2 separate regions of the Homo sapiens genome follow, and region 2 is linked to region 1. The links come from fine-mapping of genetic effects on gene expression. Tissue or cell type: whole blood. Region 1 holds a variant in brackets; the other region holds the start of a gene. All regions are shown on one strand. Distances are from middle to middle.

The links. PIP is the estimated chance that this variant, and not a neighbour inherited with it, causes the effect.
Region 2: ATPSCKMT starts here. The variant in region 1 is fine-mapped to the expression of ATPSCKMT in whole blood (INTERVAL, PIP above 0.99).

The regions. Positions count from the first base shown.
Region 1 is chr5:10,225,872-10,228,787 of GRCh38, reverse strand. ATPSCKMT (ATP synthase c subunit lysine N-methyltransferase) reads left to right here. Exons shown (of 5, transcript NM_199133.4): 5 at 1,141-2,916. The coding sequence ends at 1,347. Among named protein-coding and RNA genes, the nearest start is that of ATPSCKMT, 23 kb to the left of the region's middle. The variant C/T (reference allele first, on the strand shown) is at 1,189.
Region 2 is chr5:10,248,398-10,251,313 of GRCh38, reverse strand. It overlaps ATPSCKMT (ATP synthase c subunit lysine N-methyltransferase), which reads left to right and starts at 1,426. Exons shown (of 5, transcript NM_199133.4): 1 at 1,426-1,456. The coding sequence starts at 1,441. It overlaps CCT5 (chaperonin containing TCP1 subunit 5), which reads right to left and starts at 1,034. Exons shown (of 11, transcript NM_012073.5): 1 at 869-1,034. The coding sequence starts at 973. RefSeq lists silencers at 1-106, 437-576, 647-716, 1,467-1,526, 1,537-1,656.

The DNA of each region.
Region 1 (2,916 bases):
GGATGATTTGAGTCTAGGAGGCGGAGGTTGCATTGAGCCAAGATCACACCAATGCAGTCCAGCCTGGGCGATAAATCTTGTCTCAAAAAAAAAAAAATTATTTGAACCTGGGTATAGGTATACAGGAGTTCTTTGTTCTGTTATTGCAACTTTTCTGGAAGTTTGAAATTATCCCAAAATAGCAAGTTAAAAGAAGAAAGTAGAAAAAAATTATTTTTAGGATGTGAAGGTGGTGAAGGTGGTAATATATTTTTAGGATCTGCAGATAAGTTTTTAAGTAGTTGTTAATTTGCTGATGTAATTAAAATATCAATACTTCTAGCAAATAATAAAAACTCTTTATTGGTAGATTGATAATAAAATGGTACAACGGTGGTATAAGTTAGGCTATCAAGAAATTCATTATCAGTATATTATGGATACATTTTTAAAAATTATGAAATATTTCATGATATTTCCAGTTGGTAGAATTGTGCATATTTTTTCATAGTCTAACTATACCACATTTCATTGACTGTAGATCTTGATTTTAGGATGCACCATTGCTATTGAGAAACAAAAAAATTGCTAATTATAATTCTAAGACAATTAGTGTTGTGTGATGTGTCCTGATTTCAGAGATGTTAAAAATGTGCAAAAATGTGGCTGGGCGCAGTGGCTCACGCCTGTCATCCCAGCACTTTGGGAGGCCGAGGTGGGCAGATTGCTTGAGCCCAGGAGTTTGAGACCAGCCTGGGCAACATAACAAGACCCCTCTCTCTTAAAAAATGGTGGAAAAATAATGTCTTAAATATATGAGACTAGGTATATTGAAGTGTTGAAGTGCGTTATTTAAAACTGCTTCTTATTAAAATTACTGCCACATCCTGATTTTATTTAGAAAACTATAAATCTATGATAGACATCTGCTAAAAATGGCATATTTTATAATTAATACTAGAAGGTGTTCTTACAACTGCTGTCAGTGTATCTTCTGTATTTCAATGGATTGTTTGTTTATGTGTTTGTGTCCCAGAGTGCTCTTTTTAACAAGTAGTAATTTTTGCTCAGGTATTTTCAGGGACTCTTAAAAACAGGAAATTTTGGGATCATTTCCTCTGACTCACTGCTCACTAAAATAATAGCTGTTACTCTCCACAGATGCTGCAGTTGGAGAAGAAACTTGAACGTGAACTTGAGGATGATGCA[C/T]GAGTTATTGCTTGCCGGTTCCCTTTCCCACATTGGACTCCAGACCACGTCACGGGGGAGGGGATAGACACAGTGTGGGCATATGATGCAAGCACTTTTAGAGGCCGTGAAAAGAGGCCCTGTACATCGATGCATTTCCAGCTGCCCATTCAAGCATAAACTTGACTGGGAGTGTTTTTCTGAAATATTGTAGTCTTCCCTGATCTTGTAGAGACTTACAGCTGTGTCCTTAGCAAAGGAGCATAATTGTCTTTGGTTTGGAATGAGAAATTACTATTACTTTCCTTAACTGTTGGAGAAAACAAACGAAGAAAAACAGGTAGATTTAAAATCTGCTTTTGATGCTATTTTCTTAAAAATTGTACTTACTGCCTTTCCATGCACCTGGATGCATGAAAAGATGAATAAGTGATGGTCATGGTTATGGGTAGGAAAATAAGATGCCAATAGCTCTTCACATTATAAACAATATGGCTTAATGCCTCGATAAGGAGAAATGATTTTTAAAGACAGTATATATTACCAACTGTTTGTAGTATCCTATAACTTTGTTCATACTTAAGTTGTATCTCTTTCCTTTTTGTACTTCATGGCAAAATTAATTTTCTAAAGGATTCAGAGAGGCGTTTATATTTTATAACATTTATTAGAAATAATTTGTTCCACCACTAGATTACTGTATTTTATGGAATCTAAGCTGTATATGTGTACATTTGTATACATGTATGTGTAAATGTAAGCCTGACGTGGGTTCAGATTCCAGTTTTGTCATCAGCAAGAGGCCTCGGACCCATGACTTACTGCCTCTGAGCCTTGGCTTTCTGTGTATCTCTGCCACTGGGATAATGGTACACATAACAGTGGAGTGGGGACCAATTTCTAAAACTCATGGCACCTAGTCTTTGGTCCATAAATGGTGTTTGTTATTTTAGACACTGAGAAAAATCTTATTCACAGAAGTTGCAGATTATTTCTGCTAGTCACTTTTTTATTTCTTGAGAGCTGCCACTCATTTAATATTTCTCATTTATGAGAAGAGACTTGACTGATTTAGATAAAAGACGAATTAAGGAAAACCTTTGAACGTGAGTAGACAAGCTTCATATATCTGTAAAGTGAATATTGAATGGTAGCTTGAGTCATTCGTACTTATCACAGAAAAGAATTGAACTCCCAGTCATACACCTGTAACTGAAATACCAAACTGTCTTAATGGAGATGTAATGAAGTAAGATGGTCACATCTTTAACTAAACTTATAAAAATTGGTCAGTTTGATCATTTTCATTTAAATGAGAAACATCTGGGGACACATTCATTCATTCAACAAATATGTATTCAGTATCTACTGTAGAAGAAGCTCTGAGATTCTGCGGTAAATAGACATGCAAAGCCCCTGGCCTCATGGAATTCCTATTCTGGAAAGGAGAGACAAACAAATAAGCAAGGGAATCTTAGTGTGTGTGGAGTTCTCTGAAGTAAACAGTGTGATGGTGTAGAGAGCACCTGTGTGAGTCTGAGATGAGGGGATGTGATGTTGTGGACTTCAGCCAGGTTTTTGGCAGCTAGTGTCTGTCCCTTTTTCAGTAGCTCCAGTCTTCTTATGAAGAATGAGTTCTTTCTGTGGTGTGTGACTTTAGTGGGAGGGCAGCTCTTGCTCTATGCCTCTCAGTTGCCTTCCACTGTAACCAGTCCTGTAACTGGTCTGGGCACACTCGGAGGGGGATCC
Region 2 (2,916 bases), 23 kb before region 1:
AGTGCAGCTCTACTGAAATTCTGCTCAAAACCCCCTCAATGGCTCCCCTTCTTCCCCAAAGATAACGTCGTATTTTCCATGTTGGGCATTCAATAGCTTCCACCTTCGGGAACTATTGTAAGTTAAAGAAGTCAGTGCTCCATTAAAACCGGATGGCTCTTCCATTCTACAACGTGCCATGCGCATTCTTGCCCAAGCCTTTACTTCTACCGTTTCCTCTCCCTAGAATGCTACCTCTCACCCCGATCTAAAGCTGTCCTCCAGCACCACGCTTATGTGCACCCTCTCCGTAGCTGTCCTTCTCACTGCACACCACCTTGTATTACGGTTATGTGCGTCCGTTTTTCACTCTTCGCTATTTTTCCTCAAGGGTGGGCAAAAAAGCACTCAGAAATGAAATACCCTGTTAAGTGACCACACCTTTACGAGTGACAAAGAAAACGGAAGGGCCGTTGCGGGTGGACCAGCGAAAGGTTAAGCAGCAGCGCCTTAACCGACAGGTGACAGAGCATCTCCCCGGCGCCCTCCCACTGGAGCGCAGTCCCACGCGGCCGTCAGGCTGGAGGAGCCGGGCGGGGAGGCGGTCCCGCTTTGCTCCCGCGGGCGACCGGACTGAGCGGCCCCACCCAGCTCCGAAGGGCGCTGGCGGCCCAGCCTGGCTGGCCCCCACATTCCGAGCCCAGGATTAGGCGCCGGCGTCTCCCGAGCTCAGTAAGCGGGCTGAGCGGCCGGAGACCGCAGGGAGACGGAGATTCTCGACCTTTCCGGGGAGCACATGGCAGAGCCGCTCCTCAACTCGCGCAGGCGCAGAGCCACGGCCTCGGCCACCTCCCCTTAGCCCACCGCGAGCAGGTCCCTGTGCCATTACCTTGAGGGCCTCAAGTCCCATAAGACGGGACTTGCGGTCCTGATCCTTGATGATGAGGAAAGGGCGCCCATATTCATCGAAGGCGAGGGTCCCCATGGACGCCATGGTGCAACAACCGGAATTACTTCCCCCCAACCGGCGGAGACCGCTACGGAAGCGAGAATGCACTTCCCTTTCTCGGGAGGGCCCAAAAGCTTGCGCACGCGCAGCACAAGACGCGCGGGACTTATGTTTCTACTGAGACTAATTTCACGCCAGACAGTATCTTCTGGAATCGGCGGCCTTCGGGAACTTCTATTATCCAGGAAGCCGGGGAGGGGGAGGTTTGAAGACACTTAGTGGAAATCTTAGGACACACAAGTCAAGAGCAGATTGAATTTGTCATTTTTTAAAACGTTACCACTGATAGTTTCTCGATAGTGGGTCCCAAGGAGGAATTCATTGACTTAAAGCACTATTTCTTTATTTCTTCGCACTCCGGCTCCGAGAAGATGGTAGGACCCATTTCCGGTTTTTTTTTTTTTTTTTTTTTTTTTTTTTTTTTTTTTAAAAACGCTGTTGGAAATCTCGCGATGGAGGGAGGAGGAGGTGAGGCTGGAGCGGCTTGGCGGGTTCCTGGGGGCATGAGAAGGGGTGCGGGCGGGCCGGGGGCTCGCGGTCAGCTGAGGTCTCCACTGTCGAGGCGGTGACCGGGTGCGGGCGGCTGCTCTGGCCTCCAGCCTGGCCTTCGGTGACCAGAGCTCCTGGTCGCCGCGCGGTGCCCGCGCCGGTTCTGGCGATCCTTGTCGGCGGGCGCGTTTCCCCAGAGACTGTTCTAGGCTACTTAGTGCAAGTGACTCAGCCTTTGGCACGATCTTAAGGAATAGGGATAGTGGAGGCACACTGATGGATTGGAATCGCAGTTCTGCCGCTCTTCCTAGCTGTGGCTTTGAGGAAATCCCTTAACTTCTTTGTCCCTCGGGTTCCCTGTCTGCAAAGTGACGGTGGTAACAGTAGTGCCTACTCACAGGGCTGCTGTGAGATTCAAGGAGAACGGTGCCTGGCAAGCTGAACACAGTGTTGGTAAATAAATTAACATTTTGCACAAATGGTTCAGTAACTTGCCACTGGTATACAGCTAGTAAGAAACAGTTACACAGCCTGATGCAATGGGTCCCACACTCTTTTTTTTTTTTTTTTTTTTTGAGACAAGACTGTAGCCCGGGCTGGAGTGCAGTGGCGCGGTCTCGGCTCACTGCAGCCTCCGCCTCCCGGGTTCCAGTGATTCTCGTGCCTCAGCCTCCCAGGCAGCTGGGACTACAGGCACAGAACCACCACGCTCGCTAATTTTTGTATTTTTAGTAGAGACGGTGTTAACGCCGTAGTGGCCAGGCTGGTCTCGAACGGCTGACCTCAAGTGATGTACCCGTCTAGGTCTCCCCAAGTGTTGGGCCTGAGCCACCGCGGTGCCCGGCAGGTCTCACTCTTAAGCCCTGTATTATGCTGCCTCAGAAAGATCTTGGCAACCGCAGCTGTCCTCTAAATCTCTTATGCTGCCTTCCTCCCCGCCCTCCAAGATCATGACTTAATATTTGATAGGTTTAGATTTATTTGTTGAGGGTTTCCATCCTTGCTTCTCCCCTACTGCCATGGGCAGGGACTTAACTAATAAAGTTGTATTATTCCCAGACTTTATTAGGCACTCAATAAGTGCTGAAATGAATACATGCACTATAACATTTGACCCTGTCCTGAAACTCAAGAACAGACTTGGCGACTGTGTTCCCATCTACTCTGGGGCTGAGGCAGGAGGATGGGTGGAGCCCAGGAGTTCAGTTTACAGTGCGCTATAATCGCGCCACTGCACTCCATCCTGGGCGACAGAGCGAGATTCTGTCTCTAAAAACAGGGAGGACTGACTGTCATGGGATGGTTGGTGATCTGTTAACTCTTCATGCTTGGCATACTTACGCGCTAGACCTTGAAGTGTTCTTCAAGGACATTTTAGATTTTGGAGTCAGGTCTTATTTCACGTTAGCTTTGCCAATTCAGTGTTTCCTCATTAAAAA